Linked DNA regions of Homo sapiens: region 2 is linked to region 1. Evidence: fine-mapped expression QTL. Tissue or cell type: transverse colon. Region 1 holds a variant in brackets; the other region holds the start of a gene. All regions are shown on one strand. Distances are from middle to middle.

Region 1 (11,376 bases):
TGAGTTCTTTATAAAGTACCTAGCATATAGAAAATGCTGTCAAAGTTTGAATTATTAGAATTAATAAATTGTGAAAGGTAGAGTCAATACTGAAATATTGATTCAGTATTCATTCAACACTGAAATAAGGACATGGTGAACAAAATAGAAAAAGGCCACACACTTGGTAGTCATAAATGTTACTTTATCAGAAGGTATAGGTAGAAATCATTGCTTTACATAATCTAGGCTTAGACAGTACAATTGTTTAGTTTGGTCCTTCATATGTTTTGATAATAAAGAGAAATGGTAGATGAAACTTCTCTAAAACTCTATTACTGTGCTCTGCATTCAAAACTAATTCTTAGCAACCTGTTATGACCAGGCTTAATACTAAAATGTACAGTTTAGTTAGGACTAGTTCTCTGCATGAAATTTACCTACATTGTCTCCTGGGAAGTGCTTTTATGAACTGTTCACTATTCTTGTAAAATTTACCTTAGTCTTTACTTGACTTTTCACTATTCTTGTAAAATTTACCTTAGCCTTTACTCGACTTTTTTTTCATTTACTGTTGGATTGGTTTTATACTCATTGATAGTACATCAAGTTTTGTCTACCTCCTTAGCCTTTACAAAATTTCATGTTATCTTTGCCCATTAATTCAGCAATTTTCCAAATAAAATTTTGCTAAACTTTTCCAGGAAGTGTTTTCTTTGCCCATTAGTTTAAATTTTTTGCAATATAAGCTTTCCTAAATATTTAGATAGACTAGATTGAAAATAGTCAACAATAACATTTGTCTGTGAATGTATTATGTAATATTTAAAATACTGAGCTTTACTTAAAATATTGGAATTTCCCCTCATGAGACCCTATTGATAAATCAAAAAGTCAAATCACTTACTTGGTAATTTCATCTGGAGCATCAAAATGGCCATCATAATTATAATCAAATATTGGTCCACTAACCACATTTACTCCATTTCTTTCTGTGGCATGTTTTATAAGAAGAACACTGTGGAAGTAGTCCCACATTTCTAAAAATAAAATCATAAAGTGTTTAAAATGTCCACTTCAGTGAAATATGACACTATTTTCTATTATAGACAAGTACATTTAAATAACATGAAATTCTGCCTTAATAATTGCCAGTGATGATTGGGTAATTCTCCAGAATAGGCTTCACAAGCAAAAATAAACAGCCACATTGATGATAGCTTTTTGTTTTTGTAGTTATTGTCTTGAAATTACAGTTAAATATGCCTTCAAATTTCTCCCTAGGGCTGAGTTGCTTATGGGACAGCGAGTGTTAAAAATGATCAGAACACACATGTTGCCTTATTAATTATTACTCTGGGGATAAACATTTACATTTGATTTACTTTTAGTGAGTGGCAGTAATCAAATTAAGGCTTAAAAACAAATTATCAGAATTCTAGCAACAAGTCACTCAAAGTCAAAGTAAGTTGAAAAGAAACTATGTGAGGGATCCTTCCTATACCTATATTTAAACCATTAGAACAAAATGACCCTTAATATCAGGAACAAATTGCAATTAAAAAAATATGTGTTTAGTTTGGAAGTTCAAGGAGTCACTTAACTATTTTAAAATTAATACTCTAAATTCATACTTACTTCTGAATTCTTCATACATAGGTACCAAATTGCTAGTAATTAAAGCATCATATTGGCTATCTGATGTTCTATTGCTGGCTGCAAAACAAATGGATCTTATTAGATCTAGCTATAAGAGAAAATATGACATACTGCACAACAGGCATACTACTATTACATATTAATATAAATTTATTAACAGTCAAAGCACAGAAGTAGTACTTTCTAACAGAGGTTGTTAATAATGCAGGCAGTTTTATGCCTGTAGTGGGTTGAAGTGTGATCCAAAAAAGATACATCCAAGTCCTAACCATTCCTTTCATCCCTGTGAATATAAACTTATTTGGAAATAGGTCTTTGCAGATGTAGCTAGGAGTCTCTAGATGAGATTATCCTGGATTTAGGGTGGACTGTAAATCCAGTGACTAGTGTCTTAATAAGGAGAAGGAGATTTGGGAAGAGGAGAAACACAGGGGAGAAGGTCTTGTGAAGATGGAGGCAGAGGTTTGAGTGATACCAGTACACGCCAAGCAATGCCTGGAGCCACCAGAAGCTGGGAGAGACAAGGAAGGATTTTCCCCTAGAGCCTTCAAAAAGAACATGGCTGTCAACACCTTGACTTTAGCCTTCTGACCTCCAGAACTGTGAGATAATACATTTTTGTTTTAAGTCAACCTTTTTTGGTAATTTGTTCCAGCAGCCCTAGGAAACAAACAGAATGCCAGATATAAATGGGTAGTTATTGGATGTGCACAAAATAATAATGTTATTATAGATAGCTGTCTTCCAAAATAAAATTTTCTGAAGAAAATGAGTTTTTACTTGATAGAGACTGATATGGTTTGGCTGTGTCCCCCCCAATCTCATCTTGAATTGTAGCTCCTATAATTCCCACGTGCTGTGGGAGGGACCCTGTGGGAGGTAATTGAATCATGGGGGCAGGTCTTTCCCATGCCGTTCACGTGATAGTGAATAAGTCTCACGAGATCTGATAGTTTTATAAAGAGGAGTTCCCCTGCACACGCTGTCTCTTGCCTGCAGCCATGTAAGATATCTCTTTGCTCTTCCTTTGTCTTCCCTAATGATTGTGAGGCATCGCCAGGCATGTGGAACTGTGAGTCCATTAAACCCCTTTTCTTTATAAATTATCCAGTCTCAGGTATGCCTTTATTAGCAGTATGAGAACTGACTAATAGAGACTGCTGAAGGGAACACCACAAATCATGGGCTCTGAGGATTTATGGCTGTGCTGTCTAGCACAGTGAGTGTTCAGCGAGGGTGCTCTGGAAGCAGACAGCCCAAGTGGGAACCCCAGCTCCGCTGCTCACAGCTGCACTCCTCGGGCAAAGTGCTGCATCCCTCTGTGCTTCATTTGTCTCATGGCATCTATCTCATAGAATTATTGTGAGGATTAAAAGCTGCAAACCTGTAAATGTTTATTCAAATCCTTTTTCATTTGATTTCATTTTGGTAAGAACACTTAACATGAAATCTACTCTGTTAACAATTTTTTAAGTATATAGTATAGTACTGTTGACTCTACGTACAATACTGTACAGAAGATCCCCAGAGCTTATTTGTCTTGCTTAACTGAAACTTTACGCCCATTAATTAGGAACTCCCCATTTCTCCCTCCCCCAGCCCCCAGCAACCACCATTTCACTCTCTGATTCTATGAATTTGACTATTTTAGATTCTGTAATATATAAGAACATGAATGAAACTTGAGGACATTGAGTGAAATAAGGCAGTCACAGAAACACATATAGTGCACAATTCCACTTATATGAATTTTCTATTATAATACTTTTTATACTTAAACTGTACTTGGATATCTTAACTAATTATTTTTTTTAATTACTATTAAGGCAGAGTCTGGCCATTTTACCCAGGTTGATCTCGAACTCCTGGACTCAAGCGATCCTCCTGCCTCAGCCTCCCGAGTAGGTGGGATTACAGGCATGCACCATCCTGCCTGGGTAACTAATTATTCAATGAGAGGCCAATAAGTAGGCACCAAAAGACAAGAAGAAACAAGTAGCTCTTTTTTCTTCAGATTTCATATGGTGTTTGTAGTTCTCAGACTCCACAAAAAGCCTCTTCTACCTTTTTAACTAAGCCCTGAAAGTTGGAAAGTCAATCAACATAACATTACCTCTGTTTTAGAGGAAAATAAGAACGTGCTAGTAATAGAACTTCTATTTTTAACAAATAATTGGAATTTATACTGGAGAGTTAGAAGAGAGTTTAATTTTATCCTTGATTTTTTTTTTTTAACTGACAAGATCTCACTATGTTGCCCAGTCTGGTCTCAAACTCCTGAGCCTGTGATCTTCCTGCCTCGACCTTCCAAAGTGCTGGGATTATGACCATGAGCCACCGTGTCTGGCCGTATCCTTAATTTTTTGAGACAAGTTGTTTAATTATTAATTTTATTCCTTGTCAGGCAAACATTGATGTATTAACTAATATCTTATGGCCTAACAGATACAATTTTATACACAAATTTCAAATATTTTATTAATAAAATGTTGCAACTTTTTTTTTTTTTTTTGAGACAGAGTCTCACTCTGTCACCCAGGCTGGAGTCAGTGGCTCAATCTCGGCCCACTGCACCTCCACCTACCGGGTTCAAGCCATTCTCATTCCTCAGCCTCCTGAATAGCTGGTATTACAGGTGCGCACCAGCAAACCCAGCTAATTTTTCTATTTTTAGTAGAGACGGGACAGGGTTTCACCATGTTGGCCAGGCTGTTCTCGAACTCCTGATCTCAGGTGATCCACCCACTTTGGCCTCCCAAAGTGCTGGGATTACAGACGTGAGCCACCGCACCCAGCCTGTTGCAAATTTTTAATGTTTATCACAGGGCTTACATAAATTTGGTACCCCCTGATTGTATCTAGATACATAAAATTTATCAGTTAATTTATCCTAACTCAGGAGTTTTAAATTGATAACGCTACTTGCTTTCATTAAACCTTTTTGCCCATTATACATTTCGGAATCTTTAAATTACAAATCTCTAAGAAGGTGAAATTGTTGAAAATCTCATAGGCAAGTTAATAAAAATGACGTTTCCTGTTGCACAGGGAAGTGGCTTGAGTTTTAGGAAAATCACACTAGCTTTGGCAGGTTCCCAAGAGAGATTCTTTCTGAAAACAACAACAACAACAACAACAAAAACTTAAATTTCATTTGGCTACTTCACCTGCAGTTTAAAACTGTTAGCCCTACAGCATGAGCGACAGGCCAAAATTCCAGCCTGATTTCTTTTTTTATTTTATTTTATTTTACTAGGTGACCTTCTCTGTATCATTCCTATTTTAGTACATGTTCTGCCAAAGCGAGCACCCAGCCTGATTTCTTTTCACGGGCACAGCTGTATTCTCCAGGTGGACCTTAGCTTGGGCAGGAGTCAGAAGAAATGGGTTTTTAGATGTTTGTGTCCTTCTGCAAAGAATCTCCAGTTTTAAAATTAAACTTAAACCTGCCGAACTCTCTAAACATCTGGGCCAGATGAGAGCTGCTGTGTGGGTCCCACTGCAAAATGTCTTAGTCTTTATTACAGCCGCTGTGCTGCTCTGGCCAGCCACAACCACTGGAAGCCTCTCAGGCAGCTAGCTTACCCAAGCAGGTAGTTTTGGTGGGGAGTATATGTTTAAGGCACATGCCCACATCCAGCTGATGAGAGCTTTCTAAGCTACTGCTCTAAAAAAGAGTTCTACTAACCAGGAGGATAGAGGAAGCCGTGGGTGATATTCTTGTCTGCTAAATAGAAGGAACATTTTTGGCTCTCAGAAGGAGGAACCCTGACATCAGCCCGCAGACAGTCTGGGACAGTGGGAGGCAGAGGCGATGTGTCTCCCTGTTCAAAGAGAGAGAGAAAAAAATTACGCCCACAATTGCGGCTCACCCATTGCCTTATATGGTTTGTCACTTCCCTAGAATGTTTTTCATTTAAGCTTTTCCTATTTTCTTAGTGAATCAGGTCTACGCAAGCAATGAGAATGGATGTCTTCAGCAGTGTTTTCTTCTGTGGTTCCCTTCTGGTTAAGGACATCGGGAGGGCAAATCAAATACACCTTGGAAAAAAATATTTGCACAGTGAAACCTGAATTGAGAGCAGAGGAATAATGGGAACTATTCCTAAAAACTAAAATCCTTTTCAAGATCTAACTTTTATGTGGTGATGTATATTGTACTTTTAAATAAAAATTGAAAGTAAAATGTATTTACTTTTAAAATATTGATATAAACTAAGTATTGATATATTATTCTTCAGCTGTTCAAGAACTTTTTATCAACCTAAGATTAATTCAAAGAAGGTGTAGTTGTCTAAACAAATTAGTTTTGAATATAAATAAATTTACAGCCATGCTTCATTCATCATGAAATATAAGAATTTTTAAAATAATTTCTTAGGCCAGGCCGGGCTCAGTGGCTCATGCTTGTAATCCCAGCACTTTGAGAGGCCGAGGCAGGCAGATCACGAGGTCAGCAGTTCAAGACCAGCCTAGCCAACATGGTGAA[C/AC]CCCGTCTCTACTAAAAATACATCAATTAGCCAGGTATGGTGGCGGGCACCTGTAATCCCAGCTACTCTGGAGGCTGAGGCAGGAGAATCGCTTGAACCGGGAGGCGGAGGTGAGCTGAGACTGGGCCATTGCACTCCAGCTTGGGTGACAGAGTGAGACTCCATCTGAAAATAATAATAATAATAATAATAATAATAATAATAATAATAATGTCTTAGGCCAGGCTTGGTGGCTCATGCCAGTAGTCCCAGCACTTTAGAAGGTTGAGGCGGGTGGATCACTGGAGGTCAAGAGTCCGAGGTTCAACATAGTGAAACCCCATCTCTACTAAAAATACAAAAATCAGCCAGGTGTGGTGGTGGGTGCCTGTAATCCCAGCTACTCGGGAGGCTGAGGCATGAGAATTGCTTGAACCTGGGAGGTGGAGGTTGCAGTCAGCTGAGATCGTGCCACTGCACTCCAGCCTGGGCAACGGAGAGAGACTCCGTCTTAAAAAATAATAATAATTTCTTTGTAGCCCTATTTAAAGACTAGTACAATAATTTATTTACCAAGAGGACATCCTGTAAATGTGCTGCCTAACTCGAGTATTTAAGGTAATACTATATTATGTGGTCATCATATTTTGATTAGCATATAATCATGGGTAAGTGAACATTTTGCTATTTGTTTATTTTTCTCAGACATTTTGATTTGTATGCTCTCTACTGCCCATAATGGATATCTTTCTTAATAAAATTTGAAATAATTTATAAAAAAATGAAGATTAAGTTAAATTAGGATGACCTTCCTTTATTCACTGCATTGTGCTGAAAGCAAAATTAGCTATGTTGTCTGAAACCTCTGAGTTCAATTCACAAAGGAAGAGGCAACATACACTGTATGCTGTCTTTGTAGCCAGGAGAGCACCATGCTGAGGTATAGAACAAGTAGGAGCTGAAGATGAGAAAAGTCCAGAAAAAGCAAAGCAGAGACTGTACTCCCTAACATACTACAAAGCTCCAGCTAGAAAACTTCTCAAATTGATTAAACACATACATTTATCTTGCTCCCTTCTAAAATTCCATTAAGAAGACAGTAATAATGAAAACACACAAGAGATGACAGGGAACATTCAGAAGCTGGAAATCAGATAAATAATAACGTGATTTAGTAGACCAGTAAACACTGACTACCAAGAGCTTATGTTTGGGAAAAGCACCAAGGAAGTCCTACTGTAGAACCCCAGAAGGGTAGAACTTGGAGTCCTAAAGACAGGAGTTCGCATAAGGCTGGAAATAGAGGATAGATTGAAAAAGTCTGCAAAAAGGGATAGACAGTATGTTTACTCTCTGGAGAGTTTAAACCAGAGGGATGATCAGACTAAAAGACACAAGGCACAGCCAAGAGCAGGTGCACCATACTGAAAGAAATGAGATTAAACAAAACTCTATTGCTGAATGATAAGATTCCCCAATCTCATTGCCCATTTAGCCTGAAAATTGTATATGCTGAGTCAGATTAGAAGTATCCTCTCTTTGGAAAACAACCAGCCTGAAAAGAAACTAGATACTGTCAGTTTGGAGTCCTCAACAAAATGGCTGGTTCTCTTCCTGATCAACCTATAGTGAAGCTTATAGACTGGAAAGACCCAGCCATATAGTTTAGTGCCTAACTCTTAAAATAGAAGCTGACAGCCAAGGACCACTAGACACTGGGGAATAAGGGAGAAGAAAAAGAGACAATGCAGAAGCCAGAAGAAAACTCTTTTCTCAGAGAGCTGAGAGTATATATGGCATCCATAAAGAAGGAACAGAGGCAATGTTTAAAAAGAGAAAAGGTAACAGAAAGAGCTCTTGGGATTTCAAAATACGACAGCCAAAAGAAAACACTCAATAAGATCTAGAGGATGAAGTTGCAGACGTGACTCAAAAGGTGGAATTAAAGACAAAGAGATGGGAAAAATAGGAAAAATTCAAACACATTAGAGAATCAGCCCAGGAAGTCTAATTTTTTTTTTTTTTTTTTGAGATGGAGTCTCACTATCTGGCCCAGGCTGGAGTGCAATGGCACAATCTTGGCTCACTGCTACCTCTGCCTCCTGGGTTCAACTGATTCTCCTGCCTCAGCTTCCCAAGTAGCTGGGATTACAGGCATGCGCCACCACGCCCAGCTAATTTTTGTATTTTTAGTAGAAACAGGGTTTTGCCATGTTGGCCAGGCTGGTCTCAAACGCCTGACCTCAGGTGATCCATCCACTCAGCGTCCCAAAGTGCTGGGATTACAGGCGTGAGCCACTGCGCTTGACCTGTCTTACTAATTTTGAAGAAAAATTATTTCTAAAATTCTGAAACCAGCTAAAACACCAATTAAGTGTATAGGCAGAGTAAAAACATGTTGAGACACAAAAACTCTCAAGAATGTATCTTCCCCTTTTTCTTTCTCAGGAAGCTCCTGAGTGATATAGTCCACCAAAACAAGAAGTAAACCAAGAAATACGAAGACGTTTGTGCTAAATGTGTTGGATGAGTTCTCACCATTTATTTCACTCTCCTTCAGGTGGCAGAGTCTGGAAAGCTAAAAGCATTTGTTTATATTCTTTCAAAAACATATCATAGTATACAGTTCTGAGTGACCAGGTTTCTCCACTTGGTATAAGGGCTACGTAAGTATGTTGTAAAATTAGAAAATAAGGAATGGTGACTGCTGACCAAGTTGGCCCCATAGACCGCTGGTATATTGTGAGTTTGATATTTCCTAACACACATCTTTATCGTTGTACTCAAACATTTCACATTAGTAAGTTTTACTTGAAGAAATATACAGTATATAAATGTAGCCCTAAATGCATTTTCCATAATGTAAGGAAATTGAGATGCTTATATTTAACAGTTAAAATTATAAAAATGTTAACGAAGAAAGTTTATTGTAATTTTTAATGAGGCTGTGGCTGTAAAAGTTGTGCTTAAACAACTTAGTTGGTCAAAATATTTACCATGTTCTCAAAGTAGCTTAGACTTTGTGCTGGGGGAAATGAACTGGGATAGCTTCAGCCAGAAAGTACTAAAAAAAAAAAGTCACATTTTCTGCTAACCGAAAATCTTGAGATTTATTTCTTACATACCAAACTTGAACCCTCAAATAAAAGTGCATCAGTACTAGGAATGAGGATGTGGCCTCCTTTATCCAGGCGAGATTATGCAATAGGCAGCCCATTAGAAGGATGGAGGGGAGGTACAGGAAGGTCCTTTCTATAATAAAAAAGGCTTTAGTGAACCACCACCACCACCACCCCGCCTCCAACACATAAACAGCTTCAATCCTGCCATCCTATCAGAGTTCCCTGGAATTTTTGAAGCAACGGAATAGAAAGTCAGGAAAGCAATAAATATAATTCAGACACTCAGATAAAATATGAACTTTTTAGCTCTCAAAATCTTACTGGAGAAGTAAATGATGAGTATAGACAGGAACGTGAGCTGCTTGTACTTTTAGTCTGGCATTGAAACAAAGTAGAACCTGAACAGAGGATAAAATTATTTCTATTGAAGTTACAGATGCTTCTTACCTGTAGGCTGAATGTACAAGCTAAAACCTACTTGTTTGAAGATTAGATAGTTACAATTTTGCCTTACGGTAAGGATAATAACTATGTATGTTTTTAATTATTTGGTTGTATGATTTATTTTCTACAGGGAAAAATAATTCTTTCATAGTTCAAAAATGTTTGCAACACACAATAATGCCCCTGTTTCAAAGACTCACAAAATAATCTTTAGAAACAAGAAAAAAGGCTTTTTAACATGGAATGATATGTGTGTAGATTGACAGATAGATAGACATATAGCTATAGATAGGTAAATAGAGCGAGAGATACATAGATACATAGGGAGACAGAGAGGCATTTTTCAAAGTACACTAGATTTCTACTCTGAAAAGTTATTTGATTTCATATTAAATTCTGAAATACCTATTTTAAACAGTAATCACAATTCTTGCTCTTATTTTCAATTTATCACCTAGCAACAGGAACACTAGTGCATATCTTCCTTCTGAACAGGCCCAGAAGCAAAATCTATGTATGGTCTGACTAACCTTAATGGTTTTGAATCAGCTGTTCTACGACCATGATTTCAAATCACAACTACTTCCCCAGAACTCTTCTGAGATACAACAAAAATTACAAAACCCACCAAAACCACAGAAAAACAAAAGCTCTATAAATCTTAAAGGCTAAGACCAATTGGGTCCATGTTCCAAAAAGTGCTTATTTAAGCCTGATTTTTTGAAACACAGAGCTGATTTACAACATTTTTATGTGAATCCCAAAACATCCTTGTATGTAATTTTCTTGAACCACAACACACTAACAGAGTAATTTCTGAATTAGAAAGCAGAAAATTGCTAGAATTCCATCCTGTCACAGGGAAGGAGAAATACACAAGTACTTCTGTGGGATCAGTGAAAGGACAGGAACTTTTGGTAACAAGGAAGCTAGTTTTAAAACAATAACAAAGAAGAATTGTATTAAACTCCTAGTCTGAGCCCACTTAGAATCTCTCCGCCTTTGGTTTCCGCCAAAGCTCATAAAAATTCAAGAATGCAAGACAGCAGGGGAAAAGTACTAAAAACATAAACATTCCCTTTAATGCCACACAACCCCTCATACCTGGAATTTTCAAAATAGAAAATTAAATAATAGGACTGACCCTGAGTATGCCACTCCTCTCGAAAACAATAACAAAATAGAAGTTATTTTGTGGAATGTTGTGTGTTGAAGAAAATCACGAACTGAACACTGTGCATATTAAGAAAGTAATGTTGCACCAACCGTCCATATGAACTCAGGTAACTGTTGGTAAAATATTTGCCCACACTGGCAAACAAACATTAGTACTGTTACCAGTGACCACAATCGAACCATTGACAGCAACAGAGCTGGCTTTCAGAATATACAAAGTTTTAATTAGTAGTAGGAAAATATGCTTATCTTTCTCCAAAAATTTTGAATTGGAACAGGAAGAGTAGGTAAACCTATGCAATCAATTATTTCCTTTCCATAAAAGAGGTGGTACTCTTAGCAAAAACATTAATAGCTATAAGTTTGTCATCAGTCTCTGGATCTAAAATACTAAGATTTTCTCTACAGAAACAGCTCCCTGATTATTTACCCATGTGGTGGGTGGTATAGCTTTGTCTTTAAAAGTCTAAAAATAATGATTGTGGTTAATTCATTCAATGCGTTTCATTCAATAAGCACTTACTGGAC
Region 2 (11,197 bases), 97 kb after region 1:
GCGGCAACTCACACCTGTAATCCCAGCACTTTGGGAAGCTGAGGTGGGTGGATCACTTGAGCCCGGGAGCTCGAGACCAGCCTGGGCAATGTAGTGAAACCCCATCTCTACTAAAACTGCAAAAATTAGCCGGGTGTGGTGGCACACACCTGTGGTCCCAGCTACTTGGGAGGCTCAAGTATGGGAGGATCACCTGAGGGCAGGGAGGAACTGCAGTGAGTGGAGATTGTGCTCCAGCCTGAGAGACAGAGTGAGATCTTGCCAAAAAAAAAAAAAAAAAAAAAAAACCAGGGTGGAGAAAGGTAAGAGAAAAACACTGGAATGATAATGAGTCTCAAATGAGCAGGGTGAAAAAGTAAAGTCCAGAAAGTACAGTGAGCAATGCCAACCTCAGATGTGGACTCCCGATAAGTAGAGTGGGGAAAGGGAGATGTCTAGAAGCAGAATGCTGCATGGAGGACAGAGGAGGCTTGGGATGGGAGATACATTTTAATGAATTAAGGCCAGAAGAGAGAAGAAATAAGGGAATGTTCTGAGAAAAGGCTGAGGGGTATACCTTGCTTTTCCAGTTTCCTGAGTCCAAGCCCCAGGCCTAATCCAAGTGACATGATCACCAGCAAAGCAAGAAGAACCTATTGCAAAAAGGAAAAAGTAACTTTTATAATTTTTTAAAAAATTACAAAGATACAAATAACCACCCTTTCTCAGTATTCTCTCTAAGTACCTGCAGCGTACTAGTTATGCCAGATACCAGATCCAACAATGATCTAGTATCTGGCCTAACTGGAGGTATAGTATTTTATTTAATGCTTGAAATTAAGAAAGAATATTTTGGCAGAATTTAAAGATACCATTTATTACAGATCTTCAAATTCAAACACATTTACCATTCAAATGCAATGAACTTAACTGCAAATTGAGTTAAAGTTAAGAATTAAAACCATAAAACCATTTTTCTGGGCCATTTTTTTTAAACCAGGCACCCATTTGTGATCATTTATTGAAAAGAATTGCAGAACTGTTAAATCCTTAACTGCCTCATTCTAAGGGAGCAGGGCTTTTTTTCCTACTCTATCACAGGATGATAATAATATTTAACATACGTAAAAATACATTGTCCAAATAGTTAACTAGCAAATAATCTGTTTTGGTCTTCCACTCATACAAACCACTTAGGATAATTTGGAAACTGCCTGACCAAAGATTGTTTATGTCATTCATTATCGCTCTGCTGACAAAGCCCTTTGGTGTAACGAACTTTATGCTATGATTAGATTAAACTATGATATAATTAAAAAGAATTCTTCTAGCTGCCCTCTTTCCTCTTCCATGAAGTCCAGAGATAAGCATGCTGGATGACAGGGCTTGAATACTGTATGTTGTCATAAAGAATGGCAGAAAGACACGTAATCAAATTACTTAGGAAAGTATTTTACAATAACCTTTGTTATAGTTTCAGACACAAAAAATAACTTTCACAAAAGAAAAAAACATCAGATTTTGCTTAGATAATTAAGAAGTACATAAATTATTTTTTTGAGGATTGTTTTCATTCTGAAAGTCAACTGGAAAATTAACACATCTAATGTTTACAATGGAAGTGAATTCAACAATTGGGAAGCTATGTTACAATACTAAGAAAACAATTCTTATATGAAGTCTCAAAGTTAGCTCAAGGGTCAGTGACCTTTCAGTACATGTTCATTCAGTGGAGAGGATGGAGAGGAAAAAATGAACATAAGCATTTACTAAATAACACCATTAGCAGTTCCTCCCTTGTCATGGTGCTTAGAAGACACAGTCGACTGAAACTAGAGTGACTACAAAGCAGAAAAACAACGTTGGGGAACTCCTTCTGGTAAACCTCACACATCATAGACTTACAAATTAACATATTTTGGTTTACACCTTATCTGTGGTACTTTTGCTGTTCAAACTTGCTAGAAAAATCAACAACATCTAGCTGTTCTTAAGATGCTTTAAAACTTCACAATATTTAATGTTAGAATCTGTTTCTTCATAATTTTTGTATTTGTTCCATATATTTGTGGCTTGTTTTCTACATTATTCTGTGAGCTCCTTGAGAGTAAAAGGCTTATTTATTTATTATTATTATTATTATTTAGAGTTGGAGGTCTCACTATGTTGACCAGGCTGGTATGGAACTCCTGGCCTCAAGAGCTCCTCTTATCTCGGCCTCCTAAAGTGCTGGGATTATAGGCACTAGCCACTGTGCCCCGCCTAAGAAGTTTATTTTTAAGCCTTTATAATCATTTACTATAAATATGTAATTCCAAAAAAGCTTCTTGATATTGGGGTGCACATGTATCTTAAACTATGTTACACTGTGCACAAAGTGGGGAGAATACTCTGAACATCAAAAACTGCTGAGAGCACATCATTTGGCTTTAACTGGGCTAAACAAAGAGTGCTAGAAACACAGCAGATACCTTCAAAATGTTTAAGTGAAACTTTAGTAAAAGTTTGAAGACATCAGGGTACTTTTGAAACAATGATTTAAAAATATTGAACTTCATTATATATACTCAAAAACCACTAGAGAGATACAAAGAAGGGAAATTAATGATGCACAAATTTTGCTGTGGAAGATTTTATAATTTCCTGAATTGATAAGCTAGGATAAATATAATAAACATGCTTGAAGTCCCAGCTACTCGGGAGGCTGAGATGGGAAGATCATTTGAGCCAAAGTTGGAGCCTGAGTTGCTGCAGCAAGCCATGATCATGCCACTGTCTTCCAGCCTGGGCAACAGAGCGAGAACATGTCTCCAAAAAAAAGAGAGAGAGAAAAAAAAAAAAATATATATATATATATATATTAGCATAAGAGCTATAAAGAGCACTCTGAAATTGAAATTCTCAGAAGGATAAAGAATAAATGGAATATATTGAGGATTTACTTTGTTACTAGGCTTAATACTTACACACATTGTTTTACATTATTTTATTTACTTCTTGAAACAATTCTGGAGAGACAGAGAATAGCGGTGACCTTAAAATATGGGATATAGGGAAAAGCTGCGGCAAGATTGGTGTGAAAAAATAATGCAATTAGTTTTGGTGTAAGGTACTGAGTCAGGAGTCAGGAAGCAGGCATTTGAAACAGGCTAGTGCACTGGGGCACACACATAGTCCCCAGCTACTCAAGAGGCTGAATGAGAGGATCACTTGAGCCCAGGGTTCAAGACCAGCCTGGGCAACATAGCGAGACCCAGTCTCTAAAAATACACATATTACCAAAATAATAAAATTAAAAAAAAAAAGAAATTGTGTGACAGAGGCTGGGCAAAAAGTCAGAGCTGGTGGATTACTTGGAATTCTTGGCTGAGGAAAACACTAGAGGCCAGGTGCAGTGGTTCATGCCTGTAGTCCCAGCACTTTGGGAGGCCGAGGCAGGTAGATCACTTGATCCAGGAGTTTGAGACCAGCCTGGGCAACATGGTGAAACCCAGTCTCTACAAAAAAAAGAAAAGAAAGAAAAAAACTCACAAAAACTTAGCTGAGCCTTGTGGCATGTGCCTGTGGTCCAAGCTACTCAGGAGGCTGAGGCAGGAGGATCACTTGAGCCTGGGAAACAGAGGTTGTGGTGAGGTGAGATCCCAAAGGAGAGAGACCCTGTCTCAAAAATAAAATTAAAATTAAAAAGACTATTAGAGAACATGAGATTTCTTAAGAGATCTTAGATAGGGTTTAGTGAAGCTTGTGTTGTAATTTTCATGAGAATAAAGATAAATTGTTGGCTAAGAATGCAGATAAGGAAAAAAGTCATAAAATGAAAATGTCAATGTCATGGTAGAAGCAAGGGGAGAGAATAATTCAGAATGAGAAAGTACCAGGAAGTTATTGTTGTTATGAACACTCAAGTGGATGAAGGACGAGGAGGACTGACTTTTGAGTCAGGGACTCAGTACAGTAGAAACAAAGCCAGAGCACAAAGGAATGGTTGGGGGCTGAGAAAACTGAAGCAATGAAATGAGCCCTCTTTACCCCAAAAGTTTGATGGCAAAGGGAAAAGAGAGAGTAATAAAATCAAGGAAATGGATAAGCGTATTTCTGGAGTAAAAAGAAAAAGAAAAAAATTTAAAATTAAAAAAAAGAAAAAAGAAAATAAAATCAAGGAAAATTTATTTGGGGGGTGAGGGGGGGTGGCAGATCTTACCACATGAAATGACAAGAGAGAGAAAATAGGCAAAAGAGACTATCTCTAGGAGTGAAGTAAAATAGGATACAATTGTTGGTTCAGCAAATAATAGGGTACAATGATTTTAATTTCTCACTTTCTTGTCTTAAAATACTCATGCAATAAAAAAGTGATTGAGAGGTAGTTATAATCATGCAAAAAATCAGCGCCACAAAGCGTTCTGTCATGGATTCCAACTTTTGAGTTTAACGTAATGTTAACTTGTTGTTACTCAAATTTCTTACGTGTAAAATATGATTTAAGATATTAATTTGCATTAGAGTTTTCATAAGGGATAATACTGAATACAGTTACTTAAAAGTTTACATTTTAATAGCAACACAAAGAAATGTAAATGGGAAATCATATACTTTTAACATTTGTCACAAAACTAGAAAGACTAAAAATAAGAATTGTACTTACAATGCAAGCTATTTTATATTTCTTAAGAGTGTTCTTCTTAACAGGTTGTTCCGTTGCTAAAGTCAACGTAGATTCCATTGTCCTGGTAGCTGCATAGACCTGTTTTATCAGAATAAATTAGTGCTCCTTCTTTAGTCTAGTCTGGCAAAGAGAAACTGTATGAGTTACATAGCTGTGCCTGACTTTTAACTGTTTAGGAAGATCACAGCTCTTCAGTGATTGGGCAATCTGGAGAGAGGAAAAAATGTTGTAATAAGAATCGTGTGAAAAGATTAAAGTTCATTTCTAGTATATTGCAGACAACTGCTCCTTTTTTCCTTATAACTTTTACTAAATACTAGTCAAGACATATATAACAAGAATAACACAATCATCAAATTTTAATGCAATCCGATCTTCTGTTTTCTTTAAAAATAACCCCGAACAAAAAGCCTTGTCACAGAAATTTCAGACTTTCCGCTTTTCTATAAACTTCATAGCAGCTGAAAATCAACATAGCAAAACATGTGCTTTGACAACAGTAGAAATTCTGAAACTCTGCTGAACCAATATAAAGTACTTAGTTCTGTGATAATTATATCTTGCTTTTTACAGTGTTCACAATTTGACAAGTTTTTATACACATTAGCTCAAGTCAAACTTAAAAATATCCCTTATAAACATTTTATTCTTGTTTTTAGATGAGCAAATTAAGGCTCTGATTATTTAAATTAAGTTATTATATATGACTTATTGCTCAAAATTATTTACTAGGTGCCAGAACTAGAACTGATACCCAAGACTTCTAACTCCCCAAATCCAAGCAATTTTCACTAATCAATTTAAATTCACTATTTTCTTATGTATCTAGACTGGTGCATCCTAGCATGTGTACTCCATGCTGAAAAGGGGTTACAGTTTGGTGATGAAAGAAGCTAAATTAATAATAGTGTTGGTCAAAGAGAATTTTAGCAAATAGTGGATGCTAAACTCTTCTAGTTTCAGTGACCCTAAGGCAGTGATTCTCAAAGTTTGGTTCCATGGAACATGAGTTCTATGACAACCCCCTTGGTTAAATAAAGCTTGAATACTCCTCTAATGAAAAGATTATCAAAATCCTGTAGACTGCAGTACACCCTTTGGAAAACACTACTCTAACTAACTAAACTCTTCCAACCCTAAAAGCAGTGAGAAAAAAAATATGAAAAGAATGTATTCTAATATAAATACAATGACTGCATCACTACTCTAACTAAACATGTCTAAATCATAGAATTTAGACACTATTTCTGAAAATCAGGGGGAAGAGGATTGCTTGAGTCCAGGAATTTGAGACCAGCCGGGGCAACATAGGGAGACTCTGTCTCTATAACAACAACAACAAAAATTAGCCAGGCATGGTGGTGCATGCCAATAGTCCCAGCTACTGGAGAGGTTGAGGTGTGAGGATCCCTTGAGGCCAGAGTTTGAGGCTGCAGTGAGCCATGACAGATACACAAACAAGCAGAGACAGATTTCAGACAAAGACAAGAGAGGGGGTGCACTCGGGCAGAACAGACTCAAAACCCACTCAAAACCTGATCTTAACCAAATGCAAAGCAGGTGTATAAGCGAGCCCTATTGCTTCCCTGGCAGTACCAGGCAAATGGCTTAACAAGCCCAGATGGGAAAATAATAGGCTCCTGGCATAAATCTGGTTTTACCCTTTGAGCGCGTCCACCCCGATCTCCGTTATTCCCCAGTAGGGAGAGGGACGTGTGGTTTTGCACATGGGATAGCCCTGGGGAGAGTCTCCAGGAAAACCTCACCCGGCAGCTGCTGGGAATCTCCCGAAGACTGTCTTGTCACAAGGAGTGTGAGTATTCCTTCGTTATCTTGTCATGCTTCAAGGCCCAGGAAGGCCTGGGAAAGAGTCTTGGTGGGCCTTTGTTACTTGTTCTGGACTTTGTGTAAGGGCACTGGCTCTCTCAGCCTTTAATATTTAACCTAACCATTCAGTCAGTGCTGAAACAGTTATTATGGAGGCCTGCCTGTTTGTGAGACCTGGCCTGCCACATGATCACCCCACTGCACTCCAGCCTGGGCAACAAGAGTGAGATCCTGTCTCAAAAGTATAAAAAAATGAAAAAATAAAAATAAATAAAATATAAATCTGCAGCATGAGAGCCACGTTTCCTTTTCTGGCGTTATGGGTTTGTGCTCATCTTTTCCATCACTCCCTTGGTCCAGTATACCCCCACTTCACCAATTCCACCTATATCCCTAACCAGCAAAAGTATCAGCATTAGTTGTTGGTACAGAAGGAATTCATTTTAGAACTAGAAGATGCCATAAAGACAACCAAATCCAGGTTCTTGCAGATTTCTTTCCAGGAATCACATGGAGTATTATGTGCTTAAAAACCAGAATAAAAAAAAATTTGAATAATTTGGGCACCTGACTCTCCACACTGGATGAACTTAGAAGTACTCAGAGAAGTATTTTTTTTTAAGTTTTTATTTTTCTAATTCTGAAGCCCAGGCTCCACTTCAGTTTAATGATCTTCTGTAGTTTTGGCTAAGGCAGCAGTATTTTTAAAATATCCCGGCCGGGAGTGGTGGCTCACACCTGTAATCCCAGCACTTTGAAAGGCTTGGAAGGCTGAGACGGGCGGATTACCTGAGTCAGGAGTTCCAGACCAGCCTAGTCAACATGGTGAAACTCCATGTCTACTAAAAATACAAAAATTAGCCAGGCATGGTGGCTCACACCTATAACCCCAGAATTTAGAAGGCTGAGACAGGTGGATCACCTGGGGTCAGGAGTTTGAGACCAGCCTGGCCAACATGGTGAATCCCCATCTCTACTAAAAATACAAAAATTAGCTGGCCATGGTGGCAGGTGCCTCTAATCTCAGGTACTTGGGAGGCCGAAGCTTGAGAATCGCTTGCGCCTGGGAGGCAGAGGTTGTGGTGATCCAAGATCATGCCACTGCATTCCAGCCTGGGCAACAAAGTGAGACTGTCTCAAAATAAACAAACAAACAAACAAACAAATAAATAAATAAATATCCCTCTTAGTGATTTGATATGCAGCCCAGAGCAGTCTAAACACTTTACATTCAAATTCTTTTCTGCAAACATCCTGTCATTATTCTAATCAGACTTTTGGATTTTACAGATAAGGTCGGAGGACCACCAAAGGGACTTGGTCACTTACGCACAATTCTTTTAGTGATATCTCAGAAGTGAAATACCACCAGGTTCCTTCTTCAAAGTATTTTGCTGTTGAATCATTATGATTTTTTAAAAACAAAGACCAAACCTATGTCATAATTTGTCTCAAATTTAGGGGATTCCTAGGATCTATGGCTTTTATCTAATCATTTGTTATGTGCCTTCCATTTTTATGGGTTTCTGGGTTCTGATTGCCTACTTGCACTCATAGCAGTGCACTGACTCTGCCTTACCTCTAGTTGCTGGGGATCCTACTTTTCCTTCCTGCTGTGATGATTGGCTGTGTGTGTCAATTTGGCTAGGCCATATTATCCTGTTATTTAATCAGACGCTAATCTAGGGTGATGTTGTGATATTTTGTAGATATGGTAACAACTATAATTAATTGACTTTAAAAAAGGAAATTGTCTTCAATAATGTGAGAGCGCGCCTCATCCAATCAGTTGAAGTCCTTACGAGCAAAAACAGGCTTACCAGAGAAAAAATTCACTCCTAAAACAGCAGCATTAGCCTGAGTTGCCGGCCTGCCCGGTCCTACATATTTTGGACATTCCCCACTGCCACAATCAGGTGAGCCTGGGCTTCAGAATTAGAAAAATTAAAAATTAGTGAGGTATTCCCCCAACTTCATGAATTCCACCTATAGGCCTAACCAGCGAAAGCATCAGCATTAGTTGTTGAGCTTAACCTCATTCTTTCAATGTAGGCAAAAGTCCAATGAACTATCCATTGTGCCACAGAGCCTGCTCTTAACCTGGTTCTGACACTCCAATTGCCCTTTCAGATGCTTCTTCCTGGTATTCTCCAAAATGTAACTTGATTCTATACCAGTTTTGTATACCAAGTATATTAGTCCGTTTCCGCAGTGCTATAAAGAACTACCTGAGACTGGGTGATTTATAAAGAAAAGAGCTTCAATTGACTCACAGTTCCACATGGCTGGGGAGGCCTCAGGAAACTTACAATCATGGTGGAAAGCAAAGGAGAAGTAAGAACCTTCTTCACGTGGTGGCGGGAGAAAGAAGAGAATGTGTGCATAGGAGGTACCGTCAAACACTTATAAAACCATCAGATCTCGTGAAAATTCACTATTATGAGAACAGTATGGGGGATACCACCCCCAGAATCCAATCACTTCCCTCCCTCAACATGTGGAGACTACAATTCAAGATGAGATTTGGGTGGGGACACAAAGCCTAACCATATCACCAACATACTACTGACTCTTACTCTGTATCTTTACTAAGTGATTCCTTATGTTCTACACTGCCAGAATTTCACTTCTCTCTTCCTTCATCCTCATCCCTCATCCCTTTTCTCTTTTTTTAATTAAAAAAATTGTGGGTACATAGTGAGTATATCCCTATCCCCTTTCAACCCTGAAAAACACACAAAAAAATCCTAGGTGGGGAAGTCAGGGGGCCTCTGATAAAGGCTTAGCTTGTAAGTGACTGTCTGTGTTACAAATTAAGTGATTCTGGACATTGAATTCTTCATTTTTAAGAATTATCAGAGATTATTAGATTATCTCTAAGTCACTAAATTTTGGATATGATAATAGGGACACATCCTAGTCCTTCAGGTCCTAAGATGAATAAACCTCAAGGAATCTACCTATGTATAATACAAGTAGGTATAGTGAAGATGGTTGGCATTGCCAAGTTGCTAGCCATATTTTTGGCTATAACAATTTCTCTAACTGAACTCTAAACCCCAACCTCTTTTGAGTCTTTCAAGTTCTAGAAACTTATTCCTGGCTGGATGCAGTGGCTCACACCTGTAATCCCAGCACTTTGGGAGGCTGAGGCAGGAGGATCACTTATGTCAGTTTAAGACCCACCAGGGCAACATAGTGAGACCCTGTCTCTACAAAAAATGAAAAATAAAAAATTATCCAGGAGTTATGGTGCATGCCTGTAGTCCTAGCTACTCGGGAGGCTGAGGTGGGAGAATATGGGGAGGATTGCTTGAGCCCAGGAGTTTGGGGCTGTAGTGAGCTATGATGGCACCACTGCATTCCAGCATGAGCAGCAGAGTAAGACCATCATCTCAAAAAAGAAAGAAAAAAAGAAAGAAAGAAACTTAACAGTTCACCTGATCAATAGACACAAGCCAAAACCACACCTTCCATGCAAGTTAGACTTTGGAATAGACTGCCTGTGTCACTTAAATCTGAACCTACACTTTCTAAGTTAACTGGACCTTGAAAGTTTGCCTATTCTTTTCTTCTTTAACTTTAGAACAATCTGTACCTTCTCTTCTTTTCTTCTTCAACTTCAGAACAACCTGTACCTTCTTGGTTCTGAAACTTTACTCTGAACATTAAAATGTTCAGAGTAATTTGTAAGTAAGTTAATGGCTTAGAACGCTTGCATTCTGAGAGGCAGCTACCATTACATCACCCATCAATGTAAACCGTAAACATTCCTCATGTTACAGAAGGTCTCAGTGTCCACAGAATTCTGGCAACAAATGGGTTGTTGTTGTCTCAGAAAAGCCCTAGGGGCCTGCCAACATCAACTTCTTTGTCTCAGGAACCTGCCCTTCCTGGTTCCAGTGCTAGATCTTGGGTGATAGGTGGACAAGCTAGACTGGGAGAGCCCAGAGAAACTAATCGCACTGAGGAGGGTGGTAGAGGTGAGGCGGATGCTAGGCTCAGGTCCAACAGCAAAAGGAAGAAGGAGTCCACAAAGGAAGGGAGACCTCACATAATAACATAATGCCAGAGATAGATGGGCAGGTGACTAACTTCAGGGAGGGCCAGTCATGAGGAAAAAGCAGAAAAACCTACAAGGAGATTGACAAGCACACAAAGCAATCAGAAAGCTAACCAGGTAGGCAGTTGGTATAGGAAGGACAGAAGCTAATCCTCAGCAAGTGGAGATCCAACACTGAAGCTGAATTGAGAACTGGCTGTCTTGGTGAGACTGATGTCAGCAGTGCCAAACCAGGTCTGAGAGGCAATGGTACACACCAGGAGACAAAGCAGACACCCAGCATGGAATAGAGAGCCCAGCTCTAGTCCTCCAAACAATGACTATGGCAAAGTAGAATCAATGGTCACAGTTTGATACCGCTGTTTGCCAGTACCTATGTGTGTGAAAAGATATTTTCTGACTAAATAAGTAAAAATCTCATTACTGATCAGCACAATGAACATCTATAATCAATTTGGAGATGAGAAACCTGATGTGATGACTCCTGTGGTGTAGCAATTGTTTTCTACTGAACGATCAGCATTCCTAAGGTTGTCTCTGGTTCATGGAAGACTGTTTCTCTTACTTTGTCTCAAGTACAGAAATATTCCCTAGTAGTGTTAGATTTCTAGGAGCCCTTTCTTGTTCATTTTGAAACTCAGAAATCTTTGGATTTCCAAACA

The links. PIP is the estimated chance that this variant, and not a neighbour inherited with it, causes the effect.
Region 2: it holds the start of ENPP3, and the variant in region 1 is the best candidate, but not a certain one, in a credible set for the expression of ENPP3 in transverse colon (GTEx, PIP 0.75).

What each region holds. Positions count from the first base shown.
Region 1 is chr6:131,727,674-131,739,049 of GRCh38, reverse strand. It overlaps ENPP3 (ectonucleotide pyrophosphatase/phosphodiesterase 3), which reads right to left. Exons shown (of 25, transcript NM_005021.5): 21 at 5,327-5,462; 22 at 1,618-1,695; 23 at 887-1,019. Among named protein-coding and RNA genes, the nearest start is that of CTAGE9, 22 kb to the right of the region's middle. The variant C/AC (reference allele first, on the strand shown) is at 6,128.
Region 2 is chr6:131,630,890-131,642,086 of GRCh38, reverse strand. ENPP3 (ectonucleotide pyrophosphatase/phosphodiesterase 3) reads right to left here and starts at 4,785. Exons shown (of 25, transcript NM_005021.5): 1 at 4,625-4,785; 2 at 557-632. The coding sequence starts at 4,702. RefSeq lists a silencer at 6,057-6,146.